Linked DNA regions of Homo sapiens. The protein of the gene in region 1 purifies or fractionates together with the protein of each later gene. This does not show direct contact. Each region holds a gene or a part of one and is shown in the gene's direction. Other genes may lie near its edges. The genes, in order: PEX19, SCCPDH, FAF2, MUL1, LETMD1, MYO5A and FAM174A.

What was found.
Region 2: the proteins of PEX19 (region 1) and SCCPDH purify together in Homo sapiens (affinity purification with mass spectrometry; 4 studies listed by BioGRID and IntAct, with this or other methods). This does not show direct contact.
Region 3: the proteins of PEX19 (region 1) and FAF2 purify together in Homo sapiens (affinity purification with mass spectrometry; 6 studies listed by BioGRID and IntAct, with this or other methods). This does not show direct contact.
Region 4: the proteins of PEX19 (region 1) and MUL1 purify together in Homo sapiens (affinity purification with mass spectrometry; 3 studies listed by BioGRID and IntAct, with this or other methods). This does not show direct contact.
Region 5: the proteins of PEX19 (region 1) and LETMD1 purify together in Homo sapiens (affinity purification with mass spectrometry; 4 studies listed by BioGRID and IntAct, with this or other methods). This does not show direct contact.
Region 6: the proteins of PEX19 (region 1) and MYO5A purify together in Homo sapiens (affinity purification with mass spectrometry; 3 studies listed by BioGRID and IntAct, with this or other methods). This does not show direct contact.
Region 7: the proteins of PEX19 (region 1) and FAM174A purify together in Homo sapiens (affinity purification with mass spectrometry; 4 studies listed by BioGRID and IntAct, with this or other methods). This does not show direct contact.

The regions. Positions count from the first base shown.
Region 1 is NC_000001.11:160,276,307-160,279,220, reverse strand, and holds the end of PEX19 (peroxisomal biogenesis factor 19), read left to right. Parts: 3' UTR 1-2,414; downstream 2,415-2,914. UniProt on the Homo sapiens protein: Necessary for early peroxisomal biogenesis. Acts both as a cytosolic chaperone and as an import receptor for peroxisomal membrane proteins (PMPs).
Region 2 is NC_000001.11:246,727,409-246,730,908, forward strand, and holds part of SCCPDH (saccharopine dehydrogenase-like oxidoreductase), read left to right. Parts: intron 1-3,500.
Region 3 is NC_000005.10:176,507,385-176,510,574, forward strand, and holds the end of FAF2 (FAS-associated factor 2), read left to right. Parts: 3' UTR 1-2,690; downstream 2,691-3,190. UniProt on the Homo sapiens protein: Plays an important role in endoplasmic reticulum-associated degradation (ERAD) that mediates ubiquitin-dependent degradation of misfolded endoplasmic reticulum proteins.
Region 4 is NC_000001.11:20,502,050-20,505,151, reverse strand, and holds part of MUL1 (mitochondrial ubiquitin ligase activator of NFKB 1), read left to right. Parts: intron 1-1,842; coding exon 1,843-1,930; intron 1,931-2,962; coding exon 2,963-3,083; intron 3,084-3,102. UniProt on the Homo sapiens protein: Exhibits weak E3 ubiquitin-protein ligase activity. E3 ubiquitin ligases accept ubiquitin from an E2 ubiquitin-conjugating enzyme in the form of a thioester and then directly transfer the ubiquitin to targeted substrates.
Region 5 is NC_000012.12:51,051,327-51,054,826, forward strand, and holds part of LETMD1 (LETM1 domain-containing protein 1), read left to right. Parts: intron 1-761; exon of another isoform or gene 762-765; coding exon 766-881; coding exon of another isoform or gene 882-920; intron 921-2,451; coding exon 2,452-2,534; intron 2,535-3,500. UniProt on the Homo sapiens protein: Plays an essential role for mitochondrial structure and function, as well as thermogenesis of brown adipocytes.
Region 6 is NC_000015.10:52,312,381-52,315,880, reverse strand, and holds part of MYO5A (unconventional myosin-Va), read left to right. Parts: intron 1-1,677; coding exon 1,678-1,758; intron 1,759-2,032; coding exon 2,033-2,185; 3' UTR 2,186-3,500. UniProt on the Homo sapiens protein: Processive actin-based motor that can move in large steps approximating the 36-nm pseudo-repeat of the actin filament. Can hydrolyze ATP in the presence of actin, which is essential for its function as a motor protein. Involved in melanosome transport.
Region 7 is NC_000005.10:100,559,374-100,562,873, forward strand, and holds part of FAM174A (membrane protein FAM174A precursor), read left to right. Parts: intron 1-2,680; coding exon 2,681-2,815; intron 2,816-3,500.

The DNA.
Region 1 (2,914 bases):
GATGTTCACCTTTACGTCCAGGGTCTTTGTGCCTTGTCTCTACTCCCTCTCTTGGATCTGGGGAGGAGGGGCAGAGACCTGGGACTCTGTATTTCTATAGTTCTCCTGGCAGAGCCTTTGAGAATGGGGAGAAACAGCCTGGGCTGGGGCTACAGGTCTGTCACTATGCTCTCTTGCCTTCAGACAGACCATTCTGAATTCTCTAAAGGGAAAGGGCTTTTGCATCTAATCACAATAGAGTTGAAAGAGAGGCCTTAGGATTCTCCTCTCTCTAGGTGCTGAGCCCTCACCTCCCTGTTCCAGGCTGAGAACTCAAATGGTTACCCTGCTTCTTCCTACAATGCTGTGTGATATGGGTGAACCCAGCCCCTGACCTTCCTCTATCCCCTGCCCATCCTCCCTTTTACCTCCTCTCTTTTTTAAACACCTGTTTATCCCAACCTTTTTGAGCTCAAGCTGTGATAAAGAAGGGCCCATCCTATTTCCCCTCATCTAGTCCATTTACGATTCTCACTGACTCCCCGTCTTCCTGGCAGACACAAATAAACCCAGTGTCAGGTCTAGGAAATTAATGGCTATTCTTCCCCAGATACATTCTGGCTTATTTGAGATACATGATTCTCTTAGAATCCTGTCCCTTGGTTCAGGAAAGTAGCTTGGAAAAGGAGTAGGGGTATAGCTTGGGTCCCTTTTCCTGCAAGGCCCCATGGGGCAGAATATAATAAATATTCTGAGTGAGGAGTGTGGTCTTTTTCTGATCTTCCTCAGCTTCCGTAAGTTGCAGAGTGAGGTATATTAGGAGACTAGTTCTACACAATATTGTAATGCTGGGTTCCATCAACACCCACCTTCCACAACTCAGTCTGCACCTCAGTTGGCAAAGGAGACTGGATGGCCATCTTTCCTCATGTTCCCTTGAGTATTTCAATGTAGAAAGCCCTTCAAGTGGTATTATATTTTAACCTTTTACATTATTGTTATTAATGTTAGTAATATATTGTTATGTTTTCTAAATTATTTTTCTTTAAGCTGACGTGGCTTTTTTTCTGTGGCTCCCAGTGGGTCTACGGACCTTGGCTGACATATGTTGGTAGGTACTCTGGTCAGCTCAGCTGGCTGTCCTGGTTCACTCAGAAGATAAGTCTCTCCAAAGCAAATTCACATGCATTATGAGTCGCTTTGAGCTTCTGACATGTCACTTGCCCCGAGGTTAAAACTTTTCACCCCTTGAAGACCTTACATGTTTTATGGTATTGGTGAGGAAGGAAATGTTCTCAAGGTCTCAGGCTATTTGGGAAATTCCAACTCCTATACCTTACCAGAGCATGGAAGAGCCCAGATCTGAATGTAAAACGTCTCTGTTCTGCCAGAGATGGAAAAAATACAGGTATACTTGTGATATAGTCATGGGGCTTCAGTGTCACTATTTTCTCCTTAAAGCTCCAGCCAAAAACTGGACAAGGATAGAGAGGAGGAGGGAAGAACAAAAGAGCCCTTCTCTATGAACCTTGTGCCTTCTGTCCTACCAGTTTTCTTTTACAGATTCTCACTTCTGCTAGCCTAGCCAGGGCTTACTCCAGGAATCTAAATAGATGCCCTAGTCCACTTTATCTTTGTTCCCAAGGCACTCATTTTTATTTTGATTTTGATTGAATGTGAGCAGGTTGACCTCAGGTCACACTTTGTTCCAAAAACTTTTGGAATTATTCCAGGACTTGTGGTGGAGTTATGGTACTCTAGGGCAGTCTTTCTCAAACTATGTATGGTAAAGGACCAGGTTTTTTGTTTTCCAGTCCTTCACTTATCAATATGCATTCCTATTGCCCATGACAGGTATGGAGTTCACACTGTGTGCTGCCGACCCGGCAAGTTTGACAGCACCCAAACTGGCCAGACTGTTCTGTAGGTTAAGTCCATTGATCATGTACTTGGATATCACAGCAACATTGAAATGCTAAAAAGTTTTTAAACACTCTCAATTTCTAATTCACCATGTCACAGACTGGTGAAAAAAAAAAAAAGGTGTTCACTGACCAGCACAAGTCTGCAGATCATCTTTGAGTAGCACTGTTTTGGGGCCCTCGGTCTCTCTGAAGACCCTAGCAGAACTGATACCTACCTGTATCTCTTGTTCTCTCCTATTTGAGTTTCACTTCCAGAGAACTTGTTCTTCAGCAAGAATGTGTCACTAGTAAGGACATCTCTAGCATTTCTCTAGCCTTCCTTTTCTGCTGCTCAAAAATAATCGTTACAAAGCTTAGGTTTAAGCTGTATATGAAATATTTATGCGACTCTCAAACTTTAAAGGAGTTGCTCCTTTGTTCCAAAATTAAATGTGTTAGATAAATTTGTGATTGTATGGGTGGCTTCATGAATTAAGAATTGAATTAATACAGACTTTTTGATAATTGGGACATTTTCCTGTGACTCTGGAAGGTCTTGTCAAAGCCCCATGAGGCAGTTATAATATGATGTTAAGATGGCTTTGGGGAGCTAGGAGAAAACATTGGCCCATATTGAATGACGTGGAGACGGCAGACCATACAAAAAAGGACCAAAAGACTTAGAGGAAATGGGTATGCAAGAATGAATGTTATATAACACTGGTAAACCCACCAGCTGACTACCCCAGAAAGACCTGGGAATTATTTTTTAATAAAGACAATGGGAAAGGCACTGATGAAGGGTTACCAGCATCTTTGAGAAATTTAGAAGTGGCTGTCTCTCTAGATCGAAGCTGATACAAGATGTAAAAGAAACTGTTTTCCTAGTAGCAGTGGGGGAATGATAGGATCCTGACATAGCAGAGGCCAGGTGGCAACACTTAACTCTCAGAAGCAAGGTGAGTAAATTTCCTTAAGGGTAGCAAGGTCAAAGTGGAGATGGCTAACGGAATGTGAGTGGTCCTAGGAGC
Region 2 (3,500 bases), about 86 Mb from region 1:
TTATTGAATAAATATTTATTGATGCTTACCACATGTGAAATGCACTATTGTAGGCACCTGGGACACAATGGTGAACAAAACAGAAAATCCCTCGTGGACATTACGTTCTTGGGGAAGACAGAAAAATAGGATTGTAATAGGAGGTAATGAAAAGTGCTTTGAAGAAAAGTGAAGCCAAGAAAGGAGAAAAGGTCCTGGCATATTGGTGTTTTTAGATGGATGGTCAGGGAAGGTTTCTGTGAGGAATTGACATTTGAGCCAAGATCTGAATGAAATGAGAGCAAATTGCATGAACCTTTTGAGGAGAGACTTTTCCAGGGACAGCAGGCACAAAGGTCCTGAGATGCCAGTGTGCTTGGCAAGACTGAAGAGTGTGACAGAGGCCAGTGTGGCTGGGCATGGCAGAGAGGTGGAGAGTGGATCAGAGAGCAACCCGGGAGCTGGGTCATGTGGGATCTTACGGGCCATGGCCAGGATGTGGATTTTTTTTCCAGGTGTGACCAAGAGGCGTTGAATGGTTGAAAGGAAGGGCTTCAGCTGATTTAAATTGGAAGTTCTTTGGCTTCTGAGTGGAAAAGTAGATAACAAAGGATGAGCAATGGAATGGTGCAAGCACAAGCCCTGGGGTCGTAGTGGTGCTGAGAAGTAGTTAGGTCCAGAGTATATTTTCAAAGGAGAACGGCTTTTGCTGTTGTACTGTGAAAAAGTCATCAAGTCACAGGCCATCAGACTTTTGGCCTGTGTAACAAGGTGAATGTTGGTGACATTTAGTGATCTGAAGAAGCCATCACAGTTGGCAAGATGTTTAAAAATTAAATATCTAAAATATTAATAATTTTTAATTGAGAGCAAAAGGGTTTTTGAATTGCTATTAAATAGAAGTGTTGTTGATTTAGATTCATCTCATTCTTAACTAGCTTAGATTCCATCCATGAGGTCCACTGCTGCACTCTATAATGGACGCCCTCATCTATCTCCCTTGCCTTTTTCTCCTCAGTACTCTGGAAAAATCCCAGCCCTGGTTATTCTCTGCCTGCTCTTCACCTGAACATGAGTAACACAGTGTGGCTGGAGAAAAATGTATCCCCCTGCTAACTGGTCACACTTCAAATATGTGTTTACAAACGTTGTGTGGTGCTTAGCACCTCCGGCAGCTCTGCTCTATTTCCCTCAGGAATTCTCTCTCCTGCTCTCTGAAGCAGCTCACAACCTTGTTTTCCTTGAACTTTTAGTATCCCGTCTCTCTTTCCTTGTTCTTATCTGATTTTATTTTTCTTTTTTTTTAACTATGAAAATAGAAGCTGGTTAATAACAGAATTTCTTTCTTCATCTTCCTACCACCAGATCTATCTACCTACCTACCTGTCTGCCAATCTGCATCATACCCTGTAGTCTGCCATATCTCTTGTTACAAGGAAAAACTGGTCCTCTTCCTATTGGGCACAGTTTTCAAAGACTTTATTATCGGGGGAACCAGCCCCCAGTATTTCAACATAGGTTCTTTTCTATTTTCCCTAAGTGTCAGCCAGTCTGAGAAATAAAGAGAAAGAGTACAAAGAGAAATTTTACAGCTGGGCCTCTGGGGGTGACATCACTTGTTGACAGGTTCCGTGGTGCCCCTTGAGCTGCAAAACCAGCAAGTTTTTATTAGGGATTTCAAAAGGGGAGGGAGTGTACAAATAGGGAGTGGGTCACAGAGATCACATGCTTCAAAAGGCAATACGGTATCACAATGCAAATGGCAGAGCAAGATCACAAGGCCAGGGCAAAATTAGAATTACTGATGAGGTTCCATGTCCCGCTGGGCACGCACTGTCATTGATAAACATCTTAACAGGAAACAGGGTACGAGAGCAGACAACCAGTTTGACTAGAATTTGCCAGACTGGAATTTCCTAATCCTAGCAAGCCTGAGGGTGCTGCAGGAGACCAGGGTGTATTTCATCCCTTATCTTCAACTGCATAAGACAGACACTCCCAGAGCGGCCATTTTAGAGACCTCCCCCTGGGAATGCATTCCTTTCCCAGGGTTATTCCTTGCTGGGAAAAGAATTCAGTGATATTTCTCCTATTCGCTTTCTGCAAGAAGAGAAATATGACTCTCTTCTGCCCAGTCGCGCAGGCAGTCAGACATTATGGTTATCTCCCTTGTTCCCTGAAAATTGCTGTTATCCTCTTCCTTTTTTAGGATGCCCAGATTTCATATTGTTCAAAGACACATGTTTTACAGTTTGTACGGATAACTCAATCATCACAGGGTCCTGAGGCAACATACATCCTCAGCTTACAAAGATGACAGGATTAAGAGATTAAAGACAGGCATAGGAAATTATAACAGTATTGATTGGGGAAGTGATAAATGTCCATGAAATCTTCACAATTTATGTCCAGAGATTGCAGTAAAGACAGGTGTAAGAAATTATAAAAGTATTAATTTGGGGAACTAATAAATGTCCATGAAATCTTCACAGTTTATGTTCTTCTGCCGTGGCTTCAGCTGGTCCCTCTGTTCGGGGTCCCTGACTTCCTGTAACACTTTATGTTTACAATTACACATTATCTTGTTATCAAATTTCTCCTCTTTACTGGATTATTTCAATCAGCATTTAAATATGTGATATCTCCCATATTTTAAAAAAAGCTGCTTGATTCCACATACCCTTCCAACTACTCTACTTTTTGTGCCCCCTTTTTAGCAGCCTCCTTGGAAGAATTCTCATGACTCACTATCTCTGCTTCTTCACCTCCTACTCTATCTTAAACGCCTCCTATTGGGCTTTTGTTTTCCTCCCTCCTCCAATGAAACTACTCTGCTAAAGTCCCACCCTGTCAAATCCAGTCTTCATCTGAAAGCTTGCAGCATTCGATCCAGCTGACCACTTTCTCCTTTCTTTGCTCAGCTTCTACGTTGTCATCTTCTCGTAGTTTTCCTCCTGTCCACCAGCTTCACCCTGGAAGTCCTCGTCTCCTCCACTGCGTCTTTGTCCTCCCCACTCTAAATGCTTGAGGCCTCAGCGTTTAAGCTTTAGAACCTCAATAACCTCATTCAGGCATTAGGTTGCAGTAAAGTGAAAACGACTGAATGAATGAAGAGTGGTGCTGAGGCCCTCTCTGTGTGATGGAAACTTTCCCACAACCCCATCAGGATACCTGCTGTGTCCTGTCTTCAACACATGACCACTTAACATGGCCCAGGGAATGTCTCGTAGTCAGTCCATATAGTAACCGTTAACGGAACGTCATGTTTTTGTAAACATTAACATGGATAAAAGTTCTGATATTTACTTCCACCCTCAGTGGATCATTCTGCGCTTCCCTTAGGGGAAGACTACTTGGGAGACCACTGGGTTAGAAGATGGAACTTTGAGGGCCAGGCGCGGTGGGTCATGCCTGGAATCCCAAACCTCTGGGAGGCTGAGGTGGGCAGATCACTTGAGGTCGGGAGTTTGAGACCAGCCTGGCCAACATGGTGAAACCCTGTCTCTACTAAAAATACAAAA
Region 3 (3,190 bases), on another chromosome or scaffold:
CTGCCTCTGGGGAAGAGAGGGAAGAGAAAGCACAGAGCAGAGAAGCAGAGATGTTCCTTGAACTGCCCACAAGTTTTCAATAACTTTTATTTCTGTTTTGTAATGACCAAAGGAATGAGGCTGACATAGGTATATATATATATTTTTTTCCTTTATTTGATAAAGAGCCAATTCTTTAAACCCATGAGTTTATGCCCTGGGCTCCTTAGCCCACAATAGTGTAATAAAAGTGCCCCGGGCTGGTTTGTGCTTATTTCTGCCATTGTCCCTCTCACGTTCCCAGAGAGGTCATTCTTTTTGGTCCAACTCTTGCTGTCCTTTCTTACCACCTGTGCACCCCACTTGGAGCAGTGGGAGGAAATCTGGGTTTGTGGCCCCACAAAGGCTGTATATGTAAAGATACACCTATGTATGTGGTGGAACTCACCTTTACACACAACTGCAGCTTTTCCTTGGAGTCTGTACCAGGTGGTGGTTATGGGGTCTGAACCAAAGGATAGCAGCTCTTCATTCCTCTTCTGACATGTGCATGCTGCTCCCCCCAGCCCTGGGCTTTCCTGAATTGCCAAGCCTGGTGCCTTTCCAAAGGACTAGCAGGGCCTGTGGTGGAGCCAGCAGAACCACAGGAGAGTGCCCTGCCTGTCTCAGTGGAAGTGTATTATTGTTTTAAGGATAGAACCAGAGGCCTTGAAGGGAGCCAAGACAGAACTCCCAGCCTGTGTAATCTATTGGAAGGCACATTTTCATTTCTGATGCAGCCACCTTCTGGAGGCAGCTTTTATCCTTTCTCTCTATTGCTATGTTGAAGTAATAGGGTTTTTTTTAACCTCTGGATGTCTCGTCTGTGGTTGAGTTTATGGTAATGGGTACATGGGTCAGGCCATGTATTAACAGATGCCAGTGCGCTCTGACAAGTATTCCAAAGTGTTCTGTAGCTAGACTGGTGCAGGCTCGTTGTACCACTGCAACCGACTGACGTTACTGTAGTTCCTAGAATGCTGTGAGGGCGGGGGGTTCAGATCAACATAAAGCCTAACTTGCTGGAGTTGTAGTCTCAAGGCTTTCTCTCTTGCTTAACTAAAACCTAAGGACCACTGTTTTTGGTAGCAATTATATGGTTACTATCCACTGCAGTCCTCAGTTGTTGGGGTAAATCCCACATGGCAGAGTAAGGCACCCCACAGAAATTAACTTGGAGAGCCTGAGAAATTCCCAGTGGCCTTGGCATAGCTGTCTAGAACACCATCTCTAGGAAAATTTAATTCTGTCCCTGGCCAGCTATTGTTCTTCCACTTCGTTTTCTGCTGTCCCAAGGCCAGATGAGTGGAATCACCATCTGACTGCTGTCAATAAAATGTATCTGGCGTGAACAGCAGGATAACCCATGTTCTCCACATAAGGATAACCTTACGTGAAACCTTCCTGCTGACAACCATGCAGAGGAATTTTTCCACTTAAGTCAGAGCCTTCCTCCCCATCTGGAATTCACAGCTGTTCCCTGGCAGCACACAGGAGGGTATTAAGGACCTTTGTGAGGCTAGGTACACTGTCCACACCTCTTTGGGGAAGTTACGATTTTTTTTTTCCATCATAATTCAGTCTCTTCTTATTCTACAGTGTGCACTTTATGCCTCTCGCCTTTTGATAATAGTTGTTCAGTGAAGGAAGTCAGCTGCCAGAATATTAAGAAGGGTCTCCCTTTATGTCAGTACAACTGTTAGGGCGGCCTTCCCATTTACTTTAGGTTTCAAGAGGATTCACCGGAAGCACATGCCCCGGTCTAGTCCCATTTGAAACAGTTCTGCTTTACTGAGACCCTAGGCCGGTCTCCTTGCTGACCCTAGCGCTGCTGCCTAGGTGCCATTTCCTTTCCTCCTCAGTCAAATACAGGCTGCACATTTTGTCACTTAATGCCAGTACAATCTGTGTTACTCCTAAGGACTTTTGGGATTTTGATGAGACCTGCGAGGGAGAAGACACTGAGAAGCCAGTGATCTGCAAGCATTTGCTCTTGTTTCCACATCACCTCTGGGATATTTCAGCTGTTGTTTCCAAATGGCAAATCATCAACTAAAAGCACTTGTTTCAAGTTTTGTTCTGCACTCCCACGACTGAAGTTGTAGATTGAGCTGAATAACCATGGGAAGTGACCAAGCAAAGACACTCGATTGGAGTCAGTTGAATATTTGTACCCTCAGTGGAGCCCTTCTGGTCTTTTCTTCCACTTCTGCAGAATTTCCTCTAGCAAATACTTCTTTCTCCTTGCTTGCCTCCACCATGATATTTGAATAAGAGATGGCCAGAGGATAACACTTGTCTCTTAAAAACTAAGCTAAAAAGAACCTAGAACCTTCAATTGAGCAGTTGTGAAAATTGCTAATGGTGCCAAGGCCAAGCAAAGAGTTTCAGAAAATGACTGAGAAGGAGCGATAACCCCCAGAATGCAAAATCAGGGGCATCATTATCCGGTGCTTGAACAAGGAGCTCCGCTCTACAACTGGTTTTTTTAGGACTTGTGAGGAACACAGCAACGGAAATCCATCCACAAAGGATGCAGTGCCCCAACTTGTACTGCGCCTGAATAGTCATGTGATAATTTACTGAAGAAATCTAGTGTACTTTAAATTTTTTTCATAAAAGTTTACATTGTATTGTAGGTTAACATTAAATGTTTTATAGCAAAAACTTCATAACAGGCTGTGGATCTTTCTGTGTGGGACCGATGTGGTAGATAATTTTCTATGTGTGAAGGAGAGGTTGAAAAACACCGGGAGGGAACAGCATGGCATGGCATTGCCAAGAAGGAAGGGAGAGTCAAAGAGAAGGATGGAGTTAGGTCTTCTCTGTTGTATCCCTGTGGAAAAATAGCAACTTAGTATGATGGAGAGAGAGAGCAGACAGGCCTGGGTTCAAATTTGGGCTCTCTAGTTTGTCAGGTTTGCAACCTCGGGCAAATTCTCTAGCTTCCCTGAACTTGAATTTCCCCAGCTATAAATGAAGATAATGCCGTCCACCTCAGGATAGGTTTATAGATTCAATCAAGTAAATGTATATGAGGCTCCTGATATGTAGATGTCATTAAGTGTTTGTTCCCCTTCTATGGGAGTGTATTTTGTAAGAATATTTTCTTGGAATAACATTTTCTTAAGGAATTTGTCACTTTTGTTGGAACCAACTTGTGTCCTTGCAA
Region 4 (3,102 bases), about 140 Mb from region 1:
TTTAACCCACATAAAAATCCTGTGAAATTGCATTTTCCCTGTCCTTTATGGTTTTGGAACCTGAGACTCAGATAAATGAAGTTGTCCCAAGTCACAGTGGATGCATTGGCGCTAGATTAAACTCCAGATCTTTCTGATCATATTCTCCCTCTTCCCCCTTTAAAATTCGAATTGGCCATCCTGTGGTGGATACTTTACTAGCTGTCTCACTTTGGGCAAATCACTTCACCTCTCTGAGCCTGTTTCCTTGTCTGTAATTGGTGATAATAATGTCTACCGTAAAGGGATGGTGTGGGCATTAAGTGGTTTATGCATTTAAAGTGCCTAGCATATTGCCTGGTACATAGTATATTTAAATGCTTACTTATTCATTAATTTATTAATCAAATAATGTATTAAATGCTTGCTGTGTGTCAGGCACAGTTCTCCGCACTAGGGGGATAGCAGTGAACAGGACAAACAGTGTCCAAGCCCTCCTAGAGTTTAACATTCTAGTGGAGGGAGACAGATAATGAGTAAATTGTTAGTTGTTATTGCTGTCATTTTGGTATCTTCACAGTGTAAGTGGCTAAGAAATTTTGATTGACCTTGCTCCTGTCACTTACTGTGTAGCAGTAGCTTAAACTCAGAGTGACCTTCATATACATCTTGTATCACATCACCTCTTTAGAGGTTACTGAATCTGGCATCCTTAAGAGTTGTTTTTGGGAATACCCTGAAAGCAGAGATGGTCCTTTATTCGTCCTGAATCTCTGACACCCAGCACAGTGCCTGGCACAAAGATGCTCAGGAAATGATTGTTGATTTTATTCCTTTTCTCTTATTTTTGAAACAGCAGTAACAGGATTGGTTTCCCAAGTGCAGTGGGTTGGACGCTCTGAGTTGGAAGGCAGAGGAGAACTAGGGATTGTTAGAGGAAGACAGCAGCAGAAAGAACCGTGCTCACTTAATTATGAGCATGAAAAAGGCAAAAAGTAGAACAGACTGGGTGCGGTGGCTCACACCCGTAATCCCAGCACTTTGGGAGGCCGAGGCAGGAGGATCGCTTGAGCTCAGGAGCTCAACACCAGCCTGGGCAACATTGGGAGACCCTGTCTCTGCAAAATAAAAAAATTAGACAGGTGTGGTGGTGCATGCCTATGGCCTCAGCAACTTGGGGGCCTGAGGTGGGAGGATCACTTGAGCCTGGGAGGTTGAGGCTGCAGTGAGCCATGATTGCACTACTGCACTCCAGTCTGGGTATAACAGTGAGACCCCATCTCAAAAAAAAAAAAAAATGTAGAATGGCATTTGGCACCAGTTAACAGTCTTCCTGTTGAAGCAAAGGCAACTCCCCCTGCTTTGTTTTTTTAATAACATACAATGCAGAGCATTGGTTCGTAAAGATGTGGTAATATTAATAATAACACCTACCAGTTCTCAAACCACTGCCATGTGCTAGGTGATAGGTTAGGTACTTTATACCTGAACCCTTTGGATCATAGCTCTGTGTTGTCAGGAAGAGATTGAATGATGTTCAGTCTGTGGTATGTAAATTGACTAGTACCTTTTATATTTTCACTAAAAAGTCTTAACATGAAAAGGAGTATAGGTTTTGGTTAACTGGAACAAGAATGTATGTGGCACCCCCATTCTGCAGTGATGGAAGAGGCAGAGGCATGGCTCCATTCCTGTTGATGTACACAGCTTTGAAATCTGATTCTCAGTAGTCACCTTCCTGTCCAATTTCCATATTCTCTTGACACGAAAAAAATAGAATCTTTTTCTTTTTTTTGCCTGTAAGTTTGATTGAGCATGTCAGTGTTCAATGGCCAATTAATTTAATTTTTTTTTTTTATTTAGGGAGCTAAAAAAGTTCATTTGGGTGAAGATTTAAAGAGTATTCTTTCAGAAGCTCCAGGAAAATGCGTGCCTTATGCTGTTATAGAAGGTATGTTTGCTTATTGGTCAATGGAAAACAACGTCTTTTTCCCAAAAGATTGATAAAGATCATCTTGGCTAATATGAAGAGCCTTTTGTGGTGTTGGGTCCATGGTCCAGAACATACTTTGGGGTCAGAAAGACATGGGTTATTGCTTTGTGATCGCTAAGATTACCAAACCTCCCTGAACCACTGTTGCCTGATCTCGAAAATAATACTTACCTTTATGGGGTTGTTATAAGACAAATTATGTGATCCATGCAAAGTGCTTAGGAGAGTGCTTCTAAAATGTGACTTATGGTGATCAGAATGTCATTGTTTTGATGAATTAGCAAAAGTCAACTGAAAACACTTAATTTTTAACATTTTTTAAATTAAAAAAAAAATTTTTTTTTGAGGCCAGGTGTGGTAGCTCATGCCTGTAATCCCAGCACTTTGGGAGGCTGAGATGGGCTGATCACTTGAGCTCAGGAGTTTGAGACCAGCCTGGTCGACATGATGAAACCCCGTCTCTACTAAAAATACAAAAATTAGCTGGATGTGGTGGCACATACCCGTAATCCCAGCTACTCGGGGGGCTGAGGCAGGAGAATTGCTTGAACCCGGGAGGCGGAGGTTGCAGTGAGCCAAGATTGCACCACTGTACTCCAGCCTGGGTAACAGAGTGAGACTCCGTCTCAAATAGAGTCTTGGCTCTGTCACCCAGGTAGCTGTAGTATGGTGGTGTGATCATAGCTCACTGCAGCCTCAAACTCCTGAGCTCAAGTGATTCTCCTGCCTCAGCCTCCCAAGTATCTGGGACTACAGGCACATGCCACCACACCCTGCTAACTTTTTAATTTTTTGTAAAGATGGAATCTCACTGTGTTAACCAGGCTGGTCTCAAACTCGTGGCCCCAAGTGATCCTTCTGACTTGGCTTCCCAAAGTGTTGGGATTATAGGTGTGACCTACTGTGCCAGACCAGAAAACACATTTTAAATTATCTGAAAGGAGAGGGCAGAAAACTTCTTCAGAAATAATAGAATTTGTGTCCACTTAGGAGCTGTGCGGTCTGTTAAAGAAACGCTTAACAGCCAGTTTGTGGAAAACTGCAAGGGGGTAATTCAGCGGCTGACACTTCAGGAGCACAAGATGGTGTGGAATCGAACCACCCACCTTTGGTATGTATCACTTCTCCAC
Region 5 (3,500 bases), on another chromosome or scaffold:
TCAGGAGGTGGACGTTGCAGTGAGCCGAGATTGCGCCACTGCACTCCAGCCTGGGCGACAGAGCAAAACTCCATCTCAAAAACAAAAATAAGTGTTCCAGGCCGGGCGCAGTGACTCATGCCTGTAATCCCAGCACTTTGGGAGGCCGAGGCAGGTGGATTGCTTGAGGTCAGGAGTTAAAGACGAGCCTGTCCACATGGTGAAACCCCATCTCTACTAAAAATGCAAAAATTAGCCAGGCATGGTGGCACACGCCTGTAATCCTAGCTACTTGGGATTCTGAGGTGGGAGAATTATATAAACCTGGGAGGTGGAGGTTGCAGTCAGCCGAAATCGCACCACTGCACTCCAGCCTGGGCAACAAAGTGAGATTCCATCTCAAAAAAAAGAAAAAAAAAGTTCCAGAAAGGAGATTAAATTAATATCTGGCTGGGGAATACATAGGGTTAATTTAGCAAGACTTTCTGAAGTTAGGGAGCTTGATTTTTAAAAAGGAGTGACCAGTGAAACAGAAGAGGGAGACCATTCCATAGCAGATTACAGAAGCCAAATGTAGCTAGAAGAGAGGCGATGTGCTAGGGGAAAAAATGTTGAGAAAAGAGATTCGAGTTGACCTCAGGAGTTTCAAGTTACCTAGTTTAAAGCTTTGAGTATCGTTGGGGAGGGGTGAGAGTGTTTGCATGTGATTGAACATGGAGTAGGAAGCTGTGGTTAAGATTTAAACTGGGATAACATCACACTCTGTCCTCTACTTTAATGAGGCAGGATTGCAGATGTTATGGGCTGATGCCAAAAAGGCTAGAAGAATAAAGACAAATATGTGGAAGCACAATATAAAGTTTCATCAACTTCCATACCGGGAGATGGAGCATTTGAGACAGGTATGGGCCAGGGGCAGATATCCAGAAGTTCATGGTGAGGTAATTACATTTAATCAAGATCTCAAGGTTTTTTCTTTCATTTGTTGTTCACCATTGATCAAGCTTTTGCCCTTTGCCGTGAGAACAAAATATTGAACTGAATGAGGCATCAGATTATTTGTAAGAATTGGGTTCATCCAGAGTTGTAGCCCTCCATAGCAAGAGCTCCATAGAATTTCTGGCACACTTTCTGAATGAAAGTTGTAAATACTAAAATCTAATTAGTTTCTGAACATAACAAAAGTCTGCAAGGGGGCTGGGCGCGGTGGCTCACGCCTGTAATCCCAGCACTTTGGGAAGCCGAGGCAGGCAGATCACGAAGTCAGGAATTCGAGACCAGCCTGGCCCACAAGGTCAAACCCCATCTCTACTGAAAATACAAAAATTAGCTGAGTGTGGTGGCGGGCGCCTGTAATCCCAGCTACTCGGGAGGCTGAGGCAGGAGAATCGTTTGAACCCGGGAGGCAGAGGTTGCAGTGAGCCAAAATCATGCCATTGCACTCCAGCCTGGGTGACAGGGCAAGACTCCATCTCAAAAAAAAATAATAATAAAATGAAAATAGAAGTCTGCAAGGGCAGCCAGGCACAGTGGCTCTCGCCTATAATCTCAGCATTTTGGGAGACTGAGGTGGGCGGATCACCTGAGGTCAGGAGCTTGAGACCAGCCTGGCCAACATGGTGAAACCCCATCTCTACTAAAAATTCAAAAATTAGCTGGGCATGATGGCAGGCGCCTGTAGTCCTAGTCCCAGCTACTCGGGAGGCTGAGGCAGGAGAATTGCTTGAACCTGGGAGGCGGAGGTTGCAGTGAGTGAAGATCGCGCCACTGCACTCCAGCCTGGGTGATAAGAGCAAAACTCTGTCTCAAAAAAAAAAAAGTCTGCAAGGATCCAAAGGGCAGCATGAAAGTAGTATTTGGTGGTGACTTGATGGGTCGTTTTGAAGCTGAGAGTAAGAATCTAGGACCCATTCCGCAGATCAGGAAGAGTTCACTGAAGGATTTGGTATAATGTCAGGCTCTGTACTAGACATTATTTGGGATACAAAAGTAAATAAGTCAGAGGTTTTGTCCTCAAGGAACTAACCATCCAGAAGTAAATAGAAATAAACTTGGGGACCACATGCAGTGCTCATGCCTGTAATCCTAGCACTTTGGGAAGCCAAGGCGGGCAGATCACTGGAGGTCAGGAGATTGATACCAGCTTGTCCAACATGGTGAAACCCTGTCTCGACTAAAAATACAAAAGTTAGCCTAGAGTGGCGGCTTATGCCAATAATCCCAGCTACTCGGGTGGCTGAGGCAGGAGGATCACTTGAACCCAGGAGGCAGAGGTTGCAGTGAGCTAGGATTGCACCACTGCACTCCAGCCTAGGTGACAGAGCAAGACTCCATCTCAAAAAGAAAAAGAAAGAAATTTGGTCCTTTTTCTGGGCTGTAATAGAAGTTTACTGTACAGTGGGGTGGATGGATTGTCTATTGTATTAACAACTTATTTGGGTTAAAACTGCATCTGTGTTTATTTCTGCTTAGTTCCGCCAAGACGTCACCAAGTGTCTTTTCCTAGGTATTATTTCCATTCCACCTTTTGCCAACTACCTGGTCTTCTTGCTAATGTGAGTACAGACTTCCATCTCCCCAACATCTTGAAGATGTATCAATTTTTTTAAATTAAGAATTACTTTAAACAGCACTCATTTCAGAAGATAGGCAGAGGTTATCAAACTTCTGCTCCAATCTTCTCATTATTCCAAGGTTCATAAAAACCACTTAGGAAGACCTTGGTTACTGTGACACATCACAGCTATAAGTGTAGGTGGCCTAGACTCTCCCTATCTCTTAGCTGCCCTGAGTCATGTGAAATAAGATAGTGACCTTCTCCATCATCCCTAGAGGCTCTCTCCCCGAGAGAGAGTACTTTTAGACTAATTTCTTTAGGAAAAGTACATTTCGTATTCTGATAACATTTTTATTACTTCATATCCAAAAATGACATTTCTTAACTGTGATCTTGCATGTCATTCATTATCTATTGCTGTATAACAAATAACTTCAAAGCTTAATAGCATAAAACAATCGTATAAATCATTTTCATGATTTTGTAGCTCAAGAATTAGGGCAGTGCTCAGGTGGGCAGTTGATTTCTCTCTTCCATATAGGGTTGACAGAGGTCCCTTAGTGATATTTAGCTGCTGAATGGACTAGTCTGGAAAGTCCAATATCACTCTTATGTCTGGTGCCCTGGCAGGGATGGCTACACGGCTAGAACTGTCAACCAGAGTGCCCAGATGTGGCTTCTTCAGTATGGCAGCCTCAAGATAGTGGGACTTCTAACTTGGGAGCTCAGGGCTCCAAGAGTGAGGGGTTCTAGTAAGAATCTACATGACTTTATAACCTTGTCTTGAAGGTCACATAGAGTCACTGCTGCTCTGTCCTATTGATTGAATCAGTCACCTAGAATGAAAAAAGGGCAGGATGTAGACCTCAGCTCTCCATGAGACAAGTGCCAGAGAATTTGAGGTCATGTTTTAAAACCACCAAACACGTAGATAAATAAATTAAAAAACAAATCGTGGCCAGGT
Region 6 (3,500 bases), on another chromosome or scaffold:
AATCAGTTTGAGACCAGCCTGACCAACATGGTGAAACCCCATCTCTACTAAAAATACAAAAATTAGCCGGGCATGGTGGCAGGCACCTGTAATCCCAGCTACTCTGGAGGCTGAGGCAGGAGAATTGCTGGAACCTGGGAGACGGAGGTTGCAGTGAGCCAAGATTGCACCACTGCACTCCAGCCTGGGCAACAGAAAAAATCAGTAGGCCAGGCGTGCTGGCTCACACCTGTAATCCCAGCACTTTGGGAGGCTGAGGCAGACAGATCACCTGAGGTCAGGAGTTCAAGACCAGCCAGGCCAACATGGTGAAACCCCATCTCTACAAAAATACAAAAATTAGCCAGGCATTGTGGCGGGTGCCTGTAATCCCAGCTACTTGGGAGGCTGAGGCAGGAGAATGACTTGAACCTGGGAGGCAGAAGTGGCAGTGAGCCAAGATTGTGCCACTGCACAGAGACTTCATCTCAAAAAAAAAAAAAGTCAATCAGTAGACAATCAGAATCAAGACTTGCAGCTTCTTAATGTTGAATTCATGTTTGCATAACTTCTTACTAAGAATAAAGCAGAACTATCTGACAGAACAATGGTCCTGAGATTTCCTCCCAGTTTCTGCAAGTGTGGAAAGTAAGAATACCCTGGAGGAAGCCCAACTTTATAGAAGTTGGCTGCCATTCAACTTCTAAAGAATATACTTTAATACTTAAATATACTTTAAGCATATTTCACAGAGTGAGGCAGACCTGCAGTTTATTTATTTAGCAAATATTAGTTAACAAAGTGGTCCCACTTTTTAAAATTCAAATACTTGCCTCCGAGAGACTGATCCCTAATTCAGTTTGTCACCCACAGACCTGATAACAACATGCCCACTTTCTAGTTCTCTGGTGCTTAATTTATTTTCCTATAGATCAGCACTGTCCTGCATTCAACTTTTATTTTCATTTTGTGTTAATAGCCACATGTGGCTAGTGACTACTACTGTTGTATTGGACAGCACAGGTTTAGACAATACCTTGAAAATGGAAATATCTACCTTATATAGACGATGATTTATTTTCATTAGAAAAGAGACATGACCATTTTACAAAAAAAAATTATTGAACTTTTTAAAAAAGAACTTCATACTCTCTAATTGATTAATTTCTTTAGGGGCTTTTGTTATTCATGTTATTTATGATCTTTTATAAAAATATGATTTAAAAAACATTCAAAAGAGATAATTGTATTAATACGGCTAACATTTTTATATGGAGAAAAGTTGCAGAATAGTATTAATAGAATGAATCCCATTTGTATAAAAATAAAATGAACTAGAATATTTATAGCAGCTAGAGGGGGTGTTCAGGACATGGTTAACAATTGCCACTTTGGGAGACTGGAAGGATGGAAGTGCGGACATTTATTTTTCATGTTTTATTCTCTTGTGCTATTTGAATATCTTCGAAATTTACACAGCTTCTTACAATATTACACAAACATTACATTGATACATTCTCTTGTAAAAATTCAGATAAAGGTAAATGTGCAGACCAGCTCCTCCTTCCTTCTGGTCCCAGCCCACCCCTGAGTAGAACTGAAATCTGTACGCACAGATCCTTTTAATTTTCCAGATTATAGGTACCCAGTGTGTATTTGATAATATGCCAAAAACTTTGATCATTTCATTTCTCACAGATTGTGAAAGTGTTGAATTTGTATACTCCAGTTAATGAGTTTGAAGAAAGAGTCTCTGTGTCGTTCATTCGTACTATACAGGTAAGAGCTCCCATCTTCTTCTTTGATTCACCAACACAGTCTTTTGAATGGACATTTTGTAATTTATTGAAGGATAATGTGTTATCTTTTATTATCTTATTTTACAATGCACTAACTTTTTTGATAATAGTTAATTGGGAAAATGAAGTGAGTTTAAAACAAAAGTAAACATTCTTCATTAGTTGAGAATTTGAGGGTAGAAATTTTAGTAGAAAAAAGTCTTTTAGATTCAAAGAACTGATGCTCTGTTTATTTTTTTTCCTAATCTTCTCAGATGCGTTTACGAGACAGGAAAGACTCTCCCCAGCTGCTCATGGATGCTAAACACATCTTTCCTGTCACCTTTCCTTTCAACCCATCTTCCCTCGCACTAGAAACCATCCAGATTCCAGCCAGCCTCGGCCTGGGCTTCATTTCACGGGTCTGAAAGTGATGTCCAGGCAAAAATTGACAATACATTTCTTGCCCGAAATAAGAACCCATTATTTCCAGTGAGTTACTGAAAATACATTTTTAAAGAGAAAGTACTGATTATCTCCCAAATGAGAAGTCATTAACTGGAAATCTCCCTAGAATACTTTCATCACTTTGGAAACAAAGATAGGCTCTTTCGTGCTGTGTTATCTTTATAGCAACACTCATCCTTAACCAACTAGGTACCGTGAGTTTACATACAGGAGAATGATGGAAGGAAGGGAGGAAGGAAAGGAGGAGAAAAATGTGTCTTCAGCTGGCAGCATTTATTTTAAATCCTTAGCACTGAGTTTGAATGGTATAAAAAGTATAACTTCCATAGATGAGCTGTTGTTAGGAAGGCACCAAAGAACCTCCTCTGCACTAAACAGGAGAATGGAAAGAAAAGTCTCCATTGAGTACATATCATGTCAGTTTAGTAATCAATTATGTTGATATTGTTAAACTGGTTCAAAGAAATAAACTGGCAATATGTAAAGTAATTCCTCATTTGTGTCACTATGATATAGAGATATTAAAGGAATGTTGGTTTGCTAAATAGTATAGATGTCCATTTGTACTATAGTTTACTGAGCATTTTAAATTGCTGCTACATACTGTCTTCTTAAAATGTAAGTGATATTAGGCACTACAATAAGTTTCTCTTGTCAATTCTGTTTACAATTCAATCAGATCACAGTTTTAACTGGATTATATGCAAATACCTACAGATTCACCTGCACAAGTAGCAGACACTGGAAAGTCATGTAGTAATATGACAAAATGCTTGACATTTAGGGGTAGGATTAGACAAAGTGGCTATTGTTGATGTCATTATTTATTCAGGATGTATTACATTGATGTGCTCATTAATTTTCCCTGGGTGGATATTGCGTCAGGGTACAGTGTTCTGTGAAGTGACTTATTTTTAACTACCAGATCTGATTCCTTCAGTGCATATTTTCAACCTTGACAGGTTTTCTCTCTTCTTAATTTATTAAGAATTAATCTCGGCTGGGCGCGGTGGCTCACGCCTGTAATCCCAGCACTTTGGGAAGCCAAGGTGGGCGGATCACTTCAGGTTAGGAGTTGGAGACCAGCCTGGCCAACATGGCGAAACCCTGTCTCTACTAAAAATACAAAAATTAGCCGGGCGTGGTGGCACTTGCCTGTAATCCCAGCTACTCGGGAGGCTGAGGCACGAGAATCGATTAAACCTGGGAGGCGGAGATTGCAATGAGATCGAACCACTGCACTCCAGCCTGGGTGACAGAGAGAGACACTGCCTT
Region 7 (3,500 bases), on another chromosome or scaffold:
TTTCCTTCATTTCAACTTTGGTGAATCTGGCAGTTATGTGTCTTGGAGTTGCTCTTCTCGAGGAGTATCTTTGTGGCGTTCTCTGTATTTCCTGAATTTGAATGTTGGCCTGCCTTGCTAGAACTTCCCTATCCAGGGAAGTTCTCCTGGATAATATCCTGCAGAGTATTTTCCAACTTGGTTCCATCCTCCCCATCACTTTCAGGTACACCAATCAGACGTAGAGTTGGTCTTTTCACATAGTCCCATATTTCTTGGAGGCTTTGTTCGTTTCTTTTTATTCTTTTTTCTCTAAAATTCTCTTGTCACTTCATGTCATTCATTTGATCTTCCATCACTGATACCCTTTCTTCCAGTTGTTCGCATTGGCTACTGAGGCTTGTGCATTCGTCATGTAGTTCTCTTGCCATGGTTTTCAGCTTCATCAGGTCCTTTAAGGACTTCTTTGCATTGGTTATTCTAGTTAGCCATTTGTCTAATTTTTTTTCAAGGTTTTTAACTTCTTTGCCATGGGTTCGAACTTCCTCCTTTAGCTCGGAGTAGTTTGATCGTCTGAAGCCTTCTTCTCTCAACTCGTCAAAGTCATTCTCCTTCCAGCTTTGTTCCGTTGCTGGTGAGGAGCTGCGTTCCTTTGGAGGAGGAGAGGCACTCTGATTTTTAGAGTTTCCAGTTTTTCTGCTCTGTTTTTTCCCCATCTTTGTGGTTTTATCTACCTTTGGTCTTTGATGATGGTGACGTACAGATGGGGTTTTGGTGTGGATGTCCTTTCTGTTTGTTAGCTTTCTTTCTAACAGTCAGGACCCTCAGCTGCAGGTCTATTGGAGTTTGCTGGAGGTCCACTCCAGACCCTGTTTGCCTGGGTTTTTTATAGAGAAAGTTTAGACCTCTGGTCTACATGGTGTGTGTGGGTGTGTTTGCACACATACACACACATATACATGTTAATGTAACAACCTAAACATACTTAATTTCTCACTGTGAAAGAAAGAGTACTTTGTATTTCATACTGCTTCATTTTTGCTAGTACTAATATTTACTGACCCTTTCATTGGTTACATTTGTAACTTTAAATGCTATGCTTAACTCTCTGTTTCCTGTTCCATCACTTTAGACGTGTATATAGATAGCTCTATAGGTAATGACTGGTGGAAATTTTCTTTGTTTGTACTCACACTTAGTAACATTTTGTAAATTTTAACACTGAGACCAGGCACTTTACACCCAGGTGCTAATATCATACCTGATGCTTAATAAGACTCAATTATTTGTTGAAGGTATGTTTGTTTTCCAGGAGCTTCACTGTCATGTTTGAGGAGTCTCATGTTGCTCTTTACAGTTGATGTTATAGCCCAAGTATTTCTTATCCCACATATGTCAAACAGAGTAAATCAGAATTTATGTAAACTGATTTTATTTGTGATAACTTGCTGAAATATTTTCTATTTATTTTCAAACTCCAGTGGACACTCTTGTGAAACACATTTTGCTGTCTGTGGAGTTGAAGTTGTTGCATTGGAGATGACTTAGGCATTCCTTGCAGGGTCACAGTTTTGGTCGCCAAAGTAGAAGTCACTCAGACCCTCAACAATTAATTGAAGAACATCTTAATTGATACATCACTGTGCTAGGAAGTGGTTATGTAGTGGTGAATAAAGCAGTCTTGGTTGCTGCCCTCAGAGAACTTAGTGGGAGAGACAGATGAATAAACCCCACATAAACATATACATCAGCACATAGGAATGCAAATTAAGGTAAATGATTTGAAGGAAAAGAACAAGTTATTTGAGACACAAACTGGAAGTAGGACTCTAAATCTTGAGATTTCATTCATATGGCTAATAATGAATGTTAAGCACCCTTGAATCTTTTGAATTTCTCTAAGCCAGTGGTTCTCAAACTTGAATATGCATCAAAAGCATAAGAAATGTTTGTTAAAAGACAGGTTTCTGGGCCCCATCTTCAAAGTTTGTTATTCACTAGGTCTGGGCTAGCCATGAAGATTTGCATTTCTCGTAACTTCCTAGGTGACTGTGATTCTGCTGATCCAGAGAACCACACTGCAAGAACCACTGATCTCAGATAATGGTTTATATCACATTGGAATCACATTTAGAACCTCAACAAAATATTCATATTTAGTTCTTTTTTGCTGTACATTTTGATTCAGTTATGTCCTAAACATGGGACTTTAAAAAATACTCCCAGGTAATTCTAGTGTGCAGCTAGAGTTGTGGGCTATCAGTTTAGTCTGTGAATATGCATATACATACAGTTTCTTAGAGGGGCATCTAAACAGTGGTAAGAAAGCGGGGAGGACATGGGGAAAAGGCTGGAGCAGGAGGTTTCAGTAAAGAAGTACCTGACCTAAGCCTTTAAAAATTAAGGTTTAAAGTACGGTACCTGAATTTAAGGCTTAAAAGTTATTTGTCAACACCATCAGTTGACACAGAGAGAAGAGAGTATGTCAGACAGAAGAAACAGGCGATGGCACATAAACATGTAGGAGTAGGTTTTGTTTCATGAAGTTTAATCCTAGGTGGTAAATTTGTTGCATATCTGAAATGTAACCATTCTGATATTGTTTGCTATGTCAGAAACAGAATAATAATTTATTTTATAAATAAATATAAACTATGCCATATTAAATAATTTTTATTCATTAATTTGTTCTATTTGATAGGATGAGAAGAAGAAACCGAAAGACTAGGAGATATGGAGTTTTGGACACTAACATAGAAAATATGGAATTGACACCTTTAGAACAGGATGATGAGGATGATGACAACACGTTGTTTGATGCCAATCATCCTCGAAGGTAAGTATTCCAGTAGTTTAATTCCATGAATCAGGAAGCAAGTCCTTGCCAAGTAAACTGAAGAAGTAAAGTAGACTTTCATTTAACAGCTTATATTCCAACACAGTTTCTTCAGTTCTGTTTACTGAAGTTCTTTTTGCTATCTACCCCATAGCTCACATTCACGTTGTTTTGCTCAAATAGATACAAACAATAGAATACCATCTCAAAATATTTTTTTTAATTTATTCTTCTGTTTTTATCTTTTATTTTAAGTTCAGGGGTACAAGTGCAGGGTCGTTACATAGGTAAACTTGTGTCATGTGGTTTTGTCGTACAGATTATTTCATCACCCAGTTATTAAGCCTAGGACCCATTAACTTCTTCATTCTTGCAATATGTATTAACTTGGGTGTGTGTGTGCATGTGTGTTTGTGTGCGTGTGTGTTTGTGTGTGTGTGTGTGAGAGAGAAATACTTATTAAATTTAATTTCCTTTTTGTATTCTGAAGATATTTTCTTTTTAGTTTGGGTTCTAGTGTTTGTAAATAGTGCTGCCTTGCAGAATTGGGGGACTAATTGTTTATGGTCTGATCATGTAGCTGTAATATATATACTGAGATCTATTCTCAGTAAGTGTTAAGACCTTTCCTAAGAGGTTTAGATAAATAAAATGACATGAGTATAGAATAAATGCCAATGTAAAT